Regions from separate parts of the Homo sapiens genome. Here region 1 is linked to region 2. The links come from fine-mapping of genetic effects on gene expression. Tissue or cell type: whole blood. Region 2 holds a variant in brackets; the other region holds the start of a gene. All regions are shown on one strand. Distances are between the middles of the regions.

Region 1 (8,182 bases), 230 kb before region 2:
TGTGTTGGAAGCAATACTGCCCAGTGGTTATCTAATGCAGGCTTGTCCATCAGAAATAGAATGTGAGGCACATGTGTAATTTAAAATTATTTATTGGTCACATTAGAACACAGTAAAAAAAAACAGTGAAATAGTTTTAATAATAATTTCCTACCCCTAAGTGTGTGTGTGTGCTCGCGTGCACATTTCTGCATGTATTGGGGTGTTGTCCCTGGTCCCCAGGAGAGACAGCCAGGATCTTCACAGTCAGTGTAACTCTGGCTCCCTACTGGGACCCTCTGAATCTTTTGGTTGCCTAAAGACCACCAGGACCCAGAAACCCAAGAATACCTTTTTAGAAGCACTGGGTTGGAATCTGACAGCGGTTGTATGGGGCAAGGGAAAGTGGAAGTGATAGCTGCCTTTGGGAAGAGGAAAAGGAAGAGTAAGGGCAAAAAACAGAAACAAAAATCCCCCAGAAAACCCTCCTGTCTCTTTTTGGGTTCCATAGACCTTGGGAGGATCCCACGGAATGGGAGCAACATAATACTTTTCCACTGAGCCTCACAAAAGGTGGCAGAGACCTGAGGGCTCCTTGGAAAAGACAGGTGACACTACATCTGGGTGATGCAAAGGCAGAAGTCAAGCTCCTGCGGCAGGCGGGAGGTGGGGGTCCCCTGATTCAGGACCCTCCCTGGCAGAACTTGCCTCTGAGGCCCTTGAGACCACTGGCCTCTGCTTAGCGACTCCGCATAGTACGATCCGGAGCCCACCGAGCTTTGAAGCTGGAAGTTTCCCGCTCCCGCATCCCGCGTGCTGCTGCGCCTCTCCACCAACACACACGCGCGCGCAAACAGCACACGCACGAACACACCCCTCCCGCACGCCTCCAACAGCACCCATGCGTGCACAGAGACGCCTCCTCGCTCACCAACCACCTGCAACCCTCAGGGAAATAACGCCGAAGGTGAACGGCGCACCTTCGGGCTGAATGAGGATGCCAGGAATGCCGCTCTGGTTTCCAGGCGTACGGGAGGACACGCCGCCGGGCCTCTCTGGAGTTATTCCCTCGGCTGAGTGGGGGCCAACGAGGGCAGCGCGGCAAACCTCACACCTGGCGGCTGGCTGTGGGCTCCACGCTCCCTTAGGGAATAACCTCTTCTCTTACTCCTACCCCGAATGCTCCAAGGCTCTGCAGCGGCTCGGACCCTGCAGAGCTTCCTCCATCACCATTTGTAGCTAAAGAATCCCGAGGCGGTGCGTCCCAGAGGCATAGCCTCTGGCCCAACCTGGCGTGGGTAGAGAGGAGGTCACTCTTGGGTAAACACCTTAAATGGGAGTTTTGGCAACAAGCTGTTCACTAGAGGGGCTGTGGCTGCCGCAAAATCCCCGACTTTCCTTCAGTGTGCCTTGGGACTCCGTGCATTTCCTTCAGTGTGCCTTGGGACTCCGTGCACTGCTCGCGTGTCTCCTGGCCTCCCTTTACTTCTCCTCGACCCTTCACTTCTTCCACCGTTCCTTCTTTTACTTTTTTTCTTTGAGCGTGTCGGACTCCCAGTCAATAGGTATACAGCAGCAATCCCTCACCCTCCTCACCTCAACCCTGCCTACGTTTTAGGGATAGGGTGAAGACTGCGGGCACTGCTGTGTATCCATGACGGGGAGCCGAGCCTGGCATGCTGATCCAGAGACCCCAGAGATGAGAAGCGGCATCCCGCGACAGCAGTCGGAAGTTGGAGGCTATAGGGCCTGGGGCTCCAAGTCAGCGCAGCAGTAACCGGGGTGGGGGAGGCCAGGCCACGAAGTGGGGCCGGCTGCGCAGCAGCGGCCTTAACTCCTCGGCCACCTGCATGTCTCCGTCATTCACCCACAGCCTGGCAGGGGTAGGGCTGTTTCCAACATTTTTTTTTGGTGGGGTAGGTTGTGGGGTGTGCAGAGGAGGGAGTGGCTAAGCTGGGAGAGGGGCAGAGAAACGGATTTGGGTGGGGAAGTGAGCCTGGGGATGGACAGAGATACCACAGTCAAAGCCCAGGCGAAGGGAGTGACCACAACAGAGACAGAGGCACAGGGACAAAGAAGAGCGCGGTTGCCCAAAGCCCGAGTCCAAGAGACCCTGAGTCGGAGGCAGGCCGCCCGCAGGAGAAGAGGAGGTTCGGAACCGCAGACCTGGGGCCTCAGGAATCCCCAGGGCCTTAATGGGCCACGGAAGTCTTCGACGGCCAGTGTCAGGCAGAGCCGAGGGGACGTATGGGCGGGGGTGGAGTGGGTCACAGCTTGGCCTGTCCATCTTGGTGCCCGCGCAGAAGTCCACAGTGGCAGAAACACTCTGGGAGCCACAGGTCTCTTAGGACCCTGAGGGAGGGTGCTACCAGCTCTAGTCCAGTCGGGACCAAGAGAGTCAGGCGTGCTTGTCCCGCCCTGGCCGCCTGAGGCCGGAGCCATACATAGTCTGCACAGATCCGAGACACCCGGTCCCGAGTGATCTGGAAACGAGTGTGCTCTCACTGCGTTCAAACAAGACGAGGACATTTACAAGGTGCGAGTCCCCAACCCCCAGCTACTGGCAGGGGCTGCGCAGCGGCACCGCCCAGGCTCTCTCTCCAGGCGGCCGACTCATTTCTGCGGAGAGCACGCTTCTCGAAGAGGGTTGTAGACGCGCTCTTCCAGCATTTAATTTGCCACCCCACAAGATTGAGTTAAGTTTTAGTTAAAATACACTCATTTTATTAAAAATAGGCGGCCCAATACCACGCCGTACCCCAGCCTCTCCGAGGGCGCAAGAGAATAGAGAGTTTTCAGATTAATTGGAGGCAAATATTTTACCTTCTAACATTTAAAAATAATCTAGGCGCGTCTGCACCGGTGTGGCTCACGCGACCCCTACGCGCGAGGTCAGTCGGGCTGGTCCAGCGCAGACAGCGGCCGGGACTCACTCACCCAGTGCGCGCCTCTCCTGCCTTTCGCTGCGCGCGCCCAAAGCTAGAAAGAAGAAGGTGACGCGGGAGGCGGGTCGGGTCTCCGGGTCCAGCGAATTCGCGATCTATCCGGTTTCGGCGCCTGAGCCGAGGTCTCAGAAAGAACCCGTTAATTCTAGCCATCCTGGATCTGGGTAGGGAGGGTGCGCGGCTCCCAAGCCCAGTCTGGATGCCTAGTGCGGTGTGCTTCGGTCTCCCCGTCTGCCCTCCGGGGAGGTTTCTCACCCGGTGGCCCTGGGCCGCTTCACTGTGGCGCTTCCACTTTTGGCTACCGGCCTTCCTCCGCCCAGGACCTTCCGGCCCAGGGAGCAGCCGACGGGCACCCCCGAACGCTGGGGCACGGAATTTCAACGGGGCGACCAGAGCGGAGCTCGCGGCTCGAGGCTCGCGGCTGAGTACGAAGACGGGACCCGAGGACCTGTACATCGCTCGAGGGGAACCTGTCCTGGGCTCTGGTGCACACATAGTATGCGTTCTGGGCTGGCTTGGGTTGGGCCAGGTAGGGGAGACCTGGCTGGGTACGAGGCGCCGTCCAAGCCTTCCGGCCGTGGGCCGGGCGGTCGCGGCGCCTTTGCGCACAGTGGCCACTTGGGGTCGCACTTTATGCCTGTTTGAGCCTCTCCGCGGCGGGCTGACGCCGGGATCTGCTTAATCGTTACAAAACGTTCAAACAAAAACAGGGCCGGCTCCCCAGCAGTGGAGAGCTACTCGGAGCACCGTCCCGGGCCGGCCTCGGCCCCGAGGCTCCGGGGGCTCAGGATTCCGTGCGTGTGGCGGGGAAGAGGAATTCAGAGCCTTTGGGCTGCTGCTTTTCCCGTCGCCTTCACTGTGAACATTGTGCGGTGGGGTGAACGCGGGGAGCGGCGGGGCCAGTGGAGTCGAACCTCAGGGCTCTGCGACTGCACCCGCCAGGAGGGGCCCTCGCTTGGCCTGAGAAAGGTCCCCTGAGGTTAAGAGTTGGGTCTGAACACAACTCTCGGAGCCTCGAGCCCGCCCTCCCCAACATACAAATACGCGCAGATCTCCAGAAACAGGAACGCACGACACACACGGCCAGAAGCCGCGAGGACACACAGAGCGTCGCCCACTGGGCGGGGGCCGCTTGGGAACAAAGGGCCCAGGAGGCGTTGTCCCGGCGCTCATTCTGAGCCTCCTTGGGGGTGACACGGGATGGGGGTGGGGTGCAAAGGGAACTGAGGGAGGAGAGTGCGCGAGGAGGGGAAAGCGGTGATTTGGCCTAGAGGTGGGGCGCGCACTCCAGGCGAGCGTGCGTGGGCCGGGACCTGCAGGGTACGGGGGTGGGCCCAGGCTGGCCGTCCCACTCCGCTCCAGCGCTCCGCCAGGCCTCCGCCGCTCCGGGGCCGCTCGGGCCGCCAGTCAGCTGACGCGGGGGGCGGGGGAGCTGTCAGGCGCGCCCCGCCCTGCGCCGCTGGGCCGCGGAGGCCGTGCAGCTATTGGCCCGCGCACCGGGCCGCCCGGGCCCCCGCACCCCAGTGACATCAGGAGGCGATAAAAGGCTGCGGCGCCGCCGGATCCAGCACAGCTGCACCGCCGAGCTGCGAGCGGCTGCGAGCGAGAGAGCGTAAGAGCAAGAGAGCTAGAGAGCGAGCAACGGGCACTCGCCCCACGCCTCCCCTCAGCCCCACCGCGCGCTCCGCTTGCCTCTCCACCCCGCCCGACTCTACCCGGCCCGGTCCCTGCGCGGGCACAGCCCAGAGCTCTGGGGCGGTGCAGGCAGCCTCGGGACTCTCCGGCGCGCCGCCGCGTCCCCAGACAAAGGCTTGGCCGGCGGCCCCGGCCCGCTGCGCCCTCGCTCCCCGCCTCCCCAGCTCTTCTCCGCTCTTCCCCCCCGCGCTTGGCTCGGCGCGCTCCGGCCGGCCGCAAAGTTTCCCGGGCGGCAGCGGCGGCTGCGCCTCGCTTCAGCGATGGCCGCGGAGCTGAGCATGGGGCCAGAGCTGCCCACCAGCCCGCTGGCCATGGAGTATGTCAACGACTTCGACCTGCTCAAGTTCGACGTGAAGAAGGAGCCACTGGGGCGCGCGGAGCGTCCGGGCAGGCCCTGCACACGCCTGCAGCCAGCCGGCTCGGTGTCCTCCACACCGCTCAGCACTCCGTGTAGCTCCGTGCCCTCGTCGCCCAGCTTCAGCCCGACCGAACAGAAGACACACCTCGAGGATCTGTACTGGATGGCGAGCAACTACCAGCAGATGAACCCCGAGGCGCTCAACCTGACGCCCGAGGACGCGGTGGAAGCGCTCATCGGCTCGCACCCAGTGCCACAGCCGCTGCAAAGCTTCGACAGCTTTCGCGGCGCTCACCACCACCACCATCACCACCACCCTCACCCGCACCACGCGTACCCGGGCGCCGGCGTGGCCCACGACGAGCTGGGCCCGCACGCTCACCCGCACCATCACCATCATCACCAAGCGTCGCCGCCGCCGTCCAGCGCCGCTAGCCCGGCGCAACAGCTGCCCACTAGCCACCCCGGGCCCGGGCCGCACGCGACGGCCTCGGCGACGGCGGCGGGCGGCAACGGCAGCGTGGAGGACCGCTTCTCCGACGACCAGCTCGTGTCCATGTCCGTGCGCGAGCTGAACCGCCACCTGCGGGGCTTCACCAAGGACGAGGTGATCCGCCTGAAGCAGAAGCGGCGGACCCTGAAGAACCGGGGCTACGCCCAGTCTTGCAGGTATAAACGCGTCCAGCAGAAGCACCACCTGGAGAATGAGAAGACGCAGCTCATTCAGCAGGTGGAGCAGCTTAAGCAGGAGGTGTCCCGGCTGGCCCGCGAGAGAGACGCCTACAAGGTCAAGTGCGAGAAACTCGCCAACTCCGGCTTCAGGGAGGCGGGCTCCACCAGCGACAGCCCCTCCTCTCCCGAGTTCTTTCTGTGAGTCGTGGCCGGTCCTGGCCCCCGCCCTTGCCCCGGCCCGGACTCCCTGTCCCACGTCCCTAGTCCCAGACTACCCCGGACCCTGTCCCTGCCGCGGCCCCAGCCTTGACCTGTTTGACTTGAGCGAGAGGGAGGAAGGGCGCGCGGGCCGCGGGCGACGGGCGGGTGCGCGGGCGGGCAGGGGACCTTGGCTAAGGCGAGAGTAGCGCACGCCAGCGCCGCCTCCTAGACTCGAGCAGAGCCGGAGAGAGAGACGAGAGGGTGGGAGGTCCCGGAGTAACTTCTCTCCAGGCTGAAGGGCGGCGAGGCATAGTCCCGAGAAGTCACCAAGGCCATCTGGAGACTCCTGGCTTTCTGAACTTTGCGCGTTAAGCCGGGACAGCTGCTTTGCTGCCCGGAGAGTAGTCCGCGCCAGGAAGAGAGCAACGAGGAAAGGAGAGGGACTCTGGCGTCCCGGCAGGCGAGAGGCGAGGCTGAGCGAAAGAAGGAAGGACAGACGGACCTGTCTGTCAGAGTTCGGAGAACACTGGCTCTCAGCCCTGAGACACAGGCCTCAGTTAGGACGCTCGGCGCCCAAATCTCATCAGTTTTATTGCCTGCTCGATTATATAGAAAAATACAAAAAATCTGCATTAAAAATATTAATCCTGCATGCTGGACATGTATGGTAATAATTTCTATTTTGTACCATTTTCTTGTTTAACTTTAGCATGTTGTTGATCATGGATCATACTCCCCTTGTTTCTTTGGGTGAGAAGGGATCGCAGTTTGGAAACTCCGGCGGCTGCGTGCGGGGTTTCAGTCCCAGCTGTAGGCTTGTAAATACCCGCCCCGCCAAACCGCATAGAGAACGTGGCAGCAAGCTGAGGGTCTTTGTTTGGGTTTATTATTACGGTATTTTTGTTTGTAAGTTAAAAAGAAAAAAAAAAAGAAAAAGTTCCGGGCATTTTGCATCAGAAAACAACTTTGTCTTGGGGCACACTTGGAAGTTGCATGTTTTCTTTCCTTCCCTTATCCCCATTCGGTCCTCTTTTTCCTCTCTCGCTTTAGTTTTCAACCTTGTTGGTGCTGAGAGAGAGAACCGAGAGGTCCCAGTACAAGGGCAGGGCAGGGCAGGGAAGCTGCCAAGCTCCGCACCCCAGAGGAGTGTTCTGGACTACAGCCTTGTCTTATGGTCAAATTGATACCCTTAATAAGAAAGGAAAGGAAAGGAAAACAGATCCTCCCCTCTGCTTTTTATTGTAACCAGAATCACCCTGAGGTCCCTTCTGAACCCTCTGGGCCTGCGCTAATTGTAGGAGCCACAGCGCTCCTAGGGTGAGAGGCTTAGCCATCCCTGACCCTGGCAGTGCACTGGTAAGCAGACACTGCACTGAACCAACTGCTATGCTCAGAATGTACCAGAAACCCAAACATTGGCAAGTAATTTTGCAACTTTCAAGTGCGTTCTTTAGACCAATGCATTGCGTTTCTTTCCCTGCTTTTGAGATAGTAGGAAGAGTTCTTGGTGGTGTCCCCCCCCTTCAATTCTTCAGTTGTATAGTAGTTATAGGGAAGATATGGGTGTTTTTCTTTATTATTACTTTTTTTTTTCTGCAGGTCAGTAAAAGGATTTAAGTTGCACTGACAAAAATACCAAAATAAAAGTGTATTTTTAAGTTCCCATTTGAAATTGCTGGCGCTGCTGGCCGGATGCATTTTTGAGTTTGTATTAGTTGATAAATTAACAGTAATAACAAGATTGTATGAACCGCATGGTGCTTGCAGTTTTAAATATTGTGGATATTTGTCCTGCATCAGAAACGAGCTTTGGTTTTTACAGATTCAACTGTGTTGAAATCAAACCTGCCGCAACAGAAATTGTTTTTATTTCATGTAAAATAAGGGATCAATTTCAAACCCTGCTTATGATATGAAAATATTAAAACCTAGTCTATTGTAGTTTTATTCAGACTGGTTTCTGTTTTTTGGTTATTAAAATGGTTTCCTATTTTGCTTATTAAAACCATGGAAATGGTGTTTATTTAGAGGACTCTGCGTTCGCATGATTTTGACTTTCTTCTCTTGCTTCCTCAAGAGTCGCATCAACTTTGGGTTACTCTCACCCCATGGCCAATGGAATAGCAAACCAAGCCCTAGCAAATCCCTTCCTTGAGTGTCTGAGTGTGTGTGTACATGAGCCTCAAATGTGTTCTCTGCTTCCCACCCTAGGTACAGACCCTGGTCAAGAGAGCTGGATTATGAGCTGAGAGGGCGCAGGTCCAAACAGCCTTGGAGTCCCTGGGTGTGGGGCACACGCCACTTTTTCAGTGCTTTCAGGCTTGGCCACCAG
Region 2 (8,182 bases):
GCTGTTTTTTTGATCAAAATAGAGGCCTTAATGGCTTCCTGTTTAGACGTTATTGCTTTACCATGAGACCCATGGGAGATAGTGTAGCAATTCTACCCTGCACCCTGAGGTGGAAGAGATGAGGACACCAGAGTATTACCTTCTGAGGGTTGGCTGCATCCTGCCCTGCCTAGTGCTTCTCTGACAACCACAGCTACTCTCTCCAGGCTCTTCCCTCCCCTTTAAACTGAGGGGAGGTAATGGCTCCTCTGTGTTGCCAGCCCCCGGATGCTGCACCAACTCTTCTGGGTCTCCTTAACCCTGCTCACACCCTTGTAAATGCTCCCTATAATAAACTCTCCTCGGTTATCCCCGTTCAGGGCACCATCTGTTTCCTTCCAGGACGAGCACTCATATAAGTCGACAATGCATCTGCATTCTAGAAAATAATTCAGTGTTCCAGACAAGAATATTGTTGATTTTTGAAGAAATTTCCCATACCTACACTAAAGGAACACCAAATTTATTACTGTATCAGTGAGGTGAGTTAACATAAAACAATAAGTTGACTACTAAGAAATGTAAATGGCTAATAAACTGAAAAATCAGCTCAACTGTAATGAAATAAGTCACAAATAAATAAAAAAAGAGTTCTAATTTTTACCTTCTCAAACCCTGTTGTGGAGATGCTAAGTGGGTTCCTTAGGGAAATGCATCAAGAGCCTTAAACATTTTTATTCTTATGAGTCAAACAACTCTTTTGTGAAGTGTTCACTTAGGGAAGTACTCAGAGATGTAAAGATCTATGGACAAAGATGTACATCTCAGGGTTGTTCAATAGTGACGAATTGGGAACAATGTACATGTGCTACAGAGGAAGGTTGGCTTAAGAAACCATGCTCCATGTAGAAGTAAAGTGGTTAAGCACATAGTCTCTGGCATCAAACCATCTGGTTACACATTGTGCCATGGTGTGTGTCATCTAACCCTCGCCATGGAAGCTGTGCTTGGCAGGAGACACCTAGGAAGTGCTCAATGAACATGAAATTTATAGATAAAAAGTTATTTTCTAGGAAGGCCCCTCTACAGCCATTAGGTGGATGCTTCTGAAGCATATTTAATGATATGTAAAATTATTTGTGGCATAACATAAAATAAGGATAAATAAAAGAATAATTTAGAATTTAGATATAGAATAATCCTCATTATTTCAGCATGAAGGTATGCTAAAATGATATGAGCCTTTAGATCTAGATGGTATGATTACTGTTGATTTTGATTTTCTTTAGTTTTCAAATTATTTAAGATTGATTATTAACCTACTCCTTTTCCTCTTTCTCTCTCTTACTATGGAGACACAGATGACACCATAATAAGACAAAACGAAGTGGTCTACAATCCCATTTCCCAGATATCTTTTTGACACATACACATGCACACACACACACACACACACAATTTAAAACAGCTCAAAAACAAAATCCAAAATCTTCCTTCTCACCTACAATCTTCCCAGATGAAACCATTGGTAATAAATCCTTTGATTCATTGCAGAAGAAAGGATGTGCACATACCAGCAGATCCAAGTTCTTTTCAAATAAGCTTGTATTGATTTTATAATCAGAAAATTGTAGCATGTACACATTTAAAATGTGGGCATTTTTATTGTCAATCTCTTGAGGAACAGGCTTGGGTCAAATGGCCTGTCCTTGTCCCATTGGGGGAGGATCAGGAGCATAGGCACTACCTGTGGGGGAAGGGGGACAGAATCGGTTTTGTGGTCATTGGCCTGGGATGGGGAGGGGCTCTAAAATGCACACCTCTTGTTGGTCCTTGGTTTCCTCATCATTGGAATGGGACAGATCTTGAACACTGCACACCTTACTTACTTTGGGACAATAACCAGCATTAAGACACTAATGTTGATCCCCGAGATCAAGTATTGCTGGTCTCTGCTGGGCCTCCAGGAGCATTGCTACGAGCCATGTTTCTATGTCCTTGAAAACATCCGTCTTCAGTTTTTCCAAGGACCTCAACTCTCTTGATTTATCCAGTTCCCCAAACCCCCACCATCTGGATCCAGCTTCCGCACCCTTCCTCGGAACCAAACTGAGCACATTTTGTTTTCTTTTGCTCTTCCCTGTCTTCTCTAGTTCTACCCTAACTTCCCTAGAATTTAGGTCATTGATTGCACAAAAAAACAAAACAAAAAAAAGACAAAAAAAAAAAAAACCCAAAAAAAACAGGGAACCATGGGGTTGAACACTCATATTGGGCAATGCATATAAGGTTCATAAAATTAACTGGAAGCTGTCTCTTGATGCAGTTCCCTACTCATTGAACTCATGTGACTTGAATAAATCACTAAGACTCTTGATGTTCTGTTTTGTTCTTTGTGCAAAAAGAGAACACTCTATTGTCTTTGGTTCACAGTGGTCAACTCTAGAGAGTCTTCCATCTCCTGAGTACAGGGGAGAGGCATAATGGGCAGTCCACAGCAGCACTGAATCCAGGAGTCCCTGACTCATGGGAAGGGTTGAGGAATTTCTCAGGACCTGGGGTTAAATGGCAGCAGCAGTCTGTCCCATGGCCTCATTTTGGACGCAATGCCAAGCTTTCATCCACAAACTCACAAGTTCATGCTTTTATTTAGAGTGTGGGCATAGCACGGATTCAGGGTCAGAAAGGTCGAGTTGGATCTTTCTTGCTCTTTATTTACCTGCTAAATGACCTTATAAAGGTCCTCATGTTGTCAAGTCTCAGTGTATTCTTCTGTTACATGGGTCTAATCTTCCTTTCTTCTTTAGACAGCTGTTGTGACAGTAAAGTGAGACCCTTGTAGCAAAAGCACTTTTCGGACTCCATGATGTTAGGAAACTGCAAAACACCTTCTTCTGAGTCCAGAGACTGGAAAATGAACTCTTGTGTGGTGAGAATGAAAAGATCCCTTTCTTTTATTTATTTAGCACACATGAAACATGTATATGTATTCATTATACGCCAGGGACTCTTCTAAGTACTTGACAAATATTCACATATTTACATTCTCCTAATCACACGATGATAAATATACAACTGTTGTCCCTGTTTTCCAGATGAGAAAACTGTGGCACAGAAAAGTTAAGTAACTTGCCTAAAGCCACATAGCTAGTAAGTAGCAGAGCCAGGATTCAAACCTAGGCGCTATGGCTATAGAGCCCATGCTCTTCACCATTACATCATGTTAACTTCTTTGCTTGGGATGTTTGGTAGAGCAAAGATAACTTGAGAAGTACAACAGACTGATAGTGAATCTTAGTCCTGCCATTTAGCTGTGTGGCCTTGGGAAGGTTAATTAAATTCTCTGAGCCCTTACTCCCTTATCTATCAAACGAGAATACAAATGTCCATATCAGACAAGTTTTGCAAAGGTTAAATTGAGGCACATTGTCTGGCACAGGCACAATGAGGTGCACAGGTAATGTGAGTTGGATTTGTAGGCAGGGCCTTACCTGAACTCGGCCTTAGCCATTTACTTGATTATGGTTGATTCGGACTTTTCCATGCTCTGCCCACCAGCCTGCTGGGTAACCACATACTTCAGAGTGTGAAGGACCCTGCCCATACCAACTCTAACACTCTCAGGGTGTCTGCCTTGCAGATTGGGGTAGGGAAGCTCTTGTTCACATGCCTGGGCTTGTCTAACAATTACAATTTTTCAGGCCCAGGGTGTCAGCTCCCAGGCTCCTGTTTCCTTTGGGCTCCAAAGAGCAAACAGGGCCCTGCACTTCTCTGTCCACCTCCCCTTCCAAAAACTTACTGGTTAATTTTAGGGTTGGGGAGAGGCTCTGACGAGGGCCTGCCCACGTGGGGTTAAGGTTACCAGTGGCCTCTGCCTCTGGTCAGGCTCGCTGGGAACAGCCGCAGTCACTTCCCGAAGCTCAGTGGGGGCAGGAGCTCGGCCAGGGCAGTGGGCAGTGGTTGGGCACAACATTTCCAAGATGTTGGGAGCCCTGCCTCAGCAGACCAGACCCACAGCCCACATTTTTGCAAAAGAGACACTGTCTTTTATCAGGCATAGCCTGATGCAGTTATATTTTTCATATCATTTTAACTCTAGAAATGGCCCAGCATTTACTACTGCAAAAACTTAATCATGTCTGCCTTACCTGAGGCCCCTTTAAAAGATAAATGCTGACAGATTATCTCAATAATAAGGAAGAAGTCTAGTCACAGTTCTTTACTCTCCATTAAAGGTCTCGCAAACCACGTATTGATTTTTTTAAAGAAAAGAAATTGGAAGAAGCATGTACCAATTAAGAATAAAACTAACAATTTATTACCCTTAGATCTTTAAGGCAAATAGGGAGTAGAAAAACACTTGCTTTTTTTCCT[T/C]CCCTCTATTGAGACATAATAATTAGGTAACTATGTAAATAACCTTGTATTAAAACCTGAGACAGCCTGCGGTTACTCAGGCTTCTGTACTGGATCATAAAGATCAGTTACTGCTCCTGGGTTCTCTGAGTTTTGCAAAGCTTTTCTCCCTTTTCTGAAGGGCTCTTAGAAAAATTGTTTCCTTCCCTTTTCTTTTGCTTTGAGCAGGCTGATCATAAGCTCATCTTCTTACTTGTTTGTAAGTTTACTGAATGAGCTCTTGGAGTTTCTTGTTTGTTTCTGTATTCCACAAGCTTTGATTGAGCACAAACTATGTGTTTGTGTTGCTCTTTATATTAGATGATGAACACTGTTACAGAGAAACATTGAGCAGGCAAAGAGGACATTGAGAATTTCCAGGACGGTAACACTAAGATGACGACAAATTTTTCATTGAAGTAGAAACTAAAAACAAGGAAAATATTTTAGAACTGATCTGTCATGTACATGTCTGGCCAGGCCACCCCATCTTTTTTGTGTGTGCAATGATTCTCTGCCGGATAAATATTTGTTAAATATGTAAATAAATGTCTCCCTCCATCTGAAAAGTAAGCACCACCAGGGTAGGCATTTTATGTTTTTTACTGATGTATCCCACACGCTGAGAACTATACCTGACACATATCAGGCCCTCCATTAATATATGTTGAATAAACAAAGAGTTGTCCTCAGTTCATGGATTTGTCTGGCATTCAAAAAGTTTTTTCTAATACCTACTTTAAGTCAGGAATTGGCCTAGGTGCTAGGAACACAAACACGATTGGCCTGGGGCTGCCTTTTTTGATCTTTCAGACAAGGGGAGGAGAGTGAGTTGATCAAGCTAACATAATACTATGTTGTTAAGTGTTAAGCTAGGAGGATGTTGAGATACTCTCTTGCAGAATATGGTAGGATACTTCAGCAAAACCTGTGGAGTGAAAGAATCGTGCTTAGGTAAAAAAAGGATTGAGATGGAGTGAGCAATTGAGTTCCAGGAACTAGAAGAGGAGGTCTAATGATTGAAAGTGACAGAAAACAAGGAGCCAGAGAAATGGAGGCTGCTGCTAGGCCTCGGGTGAGAAGCAGGGAGTGGTGAGATGAGGCTGGAAGAACAAGCAGAGGCCGAATTGTGCAGAGCCTCACATGGGGTTCAGATTTAATTTAAAGACAGCATGAAGCCATTGATGGGTTGCCAGGGGACCAGGGAGGTCAAATTTCTGTTTTGGAAAAATCCCTCTGGTTTCTAGGTATAGGATGGATTTAAAGGAGAGAGCCCAGGCCAAGAGGCAGCTAAGAGCTTCTCCTACAACCCAGGGGAGATGTGGTGGAGACCTGGATGAGAGTGGACAGGCTGTGGGCTGGAAGAACCAGAGAGATTTATGAGAGAAAGACTAACGGGTTGGGGGTTAGAGAGAGGTCAGAGTAGTGGGCGACTCTGAGGTTTCTGGTTTGGTCAACTGGGAAGATAGTTTGAAATAGTTCAGGTGCAGTGTGGGAGAGAAAATTGACATGGAGTCCATATGTATGTCTTGGGAGACCGAGAGGTTTATGGCTCCACTGAAATAATTCTTCAGTTTACTCTGAAGACACATGAGTGAGAAGGAGGAAAAAATGCAATTTAAAAAGTTGTGTTGACATGAATGCACATCCACACCAGATATCTGGAGACAAAGGGCATGGATGGATTGATGTCCTGCATTGTGCAAACTGGTGTCTACTTTGTTCAAATTCAAGAATTTTATCCAAATTTCTATATTACCCTGGAAGAATAATTTAAAACACAGTTGGACCAGGTGCAGTGGCACACGTCTGTAATTCCAGCACTTTGGGATTGCGAGGTGGAAGAATTGCTTGAGCCCAGCAGTTCAAGAGCAGCCTGGGCAACCCCAGGCTTTTGATAGTGAGACCCCATCTCTCTCTCAAAAAACATAAAACTCTCTATATCCATAAGTTTCACATCTGTGGATTCAACCAACTGTGGATCAAAAATATTGAAAACAAATTTAAAAAAGGATGGTTGCATCTGTACTAAACATGTGTAGACATTTTTCCTTCTTATTATTCTCCAAACAATACAGTATAACAACTATTTAGATAGCATTTACCTTGTATTAGGTATAAGTAATCTAGAGAGGATTTAAAGTATATGGGAAGATGTGCATAGGTTCTATGCAAATACTATACCATTTTATATTAGAGACTTGAGCATCTGCAGATTTTGGTTTCCACAGGGTGTTCTGGAACCAATCCCCTGAGGATACTGAGGGACAACTGTATTGTCTTGGATGGTCTCTGATGCTGTAGTATCAGTCCTCTTTCCGTGGCTGAGAGTGGGGTGGGTGAGAAAGGAATTGGGCTTACTGTATTTTTCAGCACACTGAACCTTTCCTTGCTTTTTGAATCATTTCCTTTTACTCTAATAATTTTGGAAGTATAATATTATGAAGTACAATATCAATATTGCACAAGGAATAACCCCACACTTAGAATTCATTCATTCATCCATCCATCTATCTGACCACTCACCAGTAATCTTTCCTTCCTTCCTTCCTTCCTTCCTTCCTTCCTTCCTTCCTTCCTTCCTTCCTTCCTTCCTTCCTTCCTTCTCTCCTTCCTTCCTTCCTTCATCCTTTCTTCCTTCCTTCCTTCCTTCCTTCCTTCCTTCCTTCCTTCCTTCCTTCCTTCCTTCCTTCCTTCCTTCCTTCCTTCTTCCCTCCCTATCTCTCTCCCTCCCTTTTTTTTTGACAGTCTTGCTCTGTCACCCAGGCTGGAGTGCAGTGGCATGATCTTGGCTCATTGCAACCTCTGCCTCCTGGGTTCAAAGGATTTTCATGCCTCAGCCTCCCAAGTAGCTAGGATTACAGGCACCCACCACCACACCCAGCTAATTTTTGAATTTCAGAGAGATGAGGTTTCACCATGTTGGCCAGGTTGGTCTTGAACTCCTGGCCTCAAGTGATCCATCTACCTTGGCCTTCCAAAGCGCTGAGATTACAGGCATGAGCCACTGCTCCTTGCCCGAGTTTTTGATCTGTAGCTTTGAAGACTTGGCTCCAGAACTTCCCTTTGCATCCCTGCAATGTCTGGTCCATGCCTGTTTATTCCTTCCTTCTACTCCTCATCCTATGTCCCTGTTGCTCTGAACCCAGAAAACTTGGAGGCCCAACATTCCCAAAGTGCAGAGAGGGCTGCCACAGCTCCCTTGACCCACAAGATCATCGAGCTGATGCAGCAGGAGTTTATTTCACTTGACTTCAATTTAACTGTCCTGAGCCCCTTCTTTATATTGCCAAGAGATTTCCTAACAGATATGTAACCCGGCGATTCAGGCAATTATTCACGTATTCCCCCACATCATTAGTTTTATGGAACACTGCCAGGGGGCATATTTTTCTTCCCTAGGACTCCTGAGAATAAAGGAAATAGAACTCTTACCATGAAGTCATATTAAGGAGTTTATTTCTCAGAAAATACCCCATAGCACTTTTATAAAATCTTGTGCAGATAGACTGCATTTAGGAAAAGTATTATTTTTACCTCACCTGCTGCCATGAGAATTGCTGTCCAGGCCTCCTGCCTTCCAGGACATGGCTTTTTAAAAAATTCTGGGGTATCTACTGACCACAAAGGGGTGCCCATTGTTAGTGTAAGGAAGACATGGTTTAGGCTGGATCTTGTTGGGCTTGGCTAGGGTGATATAATTTAATCATCCAAACCAGGATGTACTTTTGGACAGAAGGGTGCTATTATTAATTATATTGGCATAACAGGTATAAATTAGGGCCATCCAGGCCCATTGGGACATATGATT

The links. PIP is the estimated chance that this variant, and not a neighbour inherited with it, causes the effect.
Region 1: it holds the start of MAFB, and the variant in region 2 is fine-mapped to the expression of MAFB in whole blood (TOPMed, PIP above 0.99).

Annotation. Positions count from the first base shown.
Region 1 is chr20:40,685,548-40,693,729 of GRCh38, reverse strand. MAFB (MAF bZIP transcription factor B) reads left to right here and starts at 4,494. Exons shown (of 1, transcript NM_005461.5): 1 at 4,494-7,882. The coding sequence starts at 4,880. The coding sequence ends at 5,851. RefSeq lists enhancers at 2,328-3,303, 3,304-4,281 and silencers at 4,232-4,541, 4,562-4,631.
Region 2 is chr20:40,459,046-40,467,227 of GRCh38, reverse strand. LOC105372618 (a long non-coding RNA gene) reads left to right here. Exons shown (of 3, transcript XR_936718.3): 1 at 1-521; 2 at 2,787-2,908. Among named protein-coding and RNA genes, the nearest start is that of MAFB, 230 kb to the left of the region's middle. The variant T/C (reference allele first, on the strand shown) is at 4,354.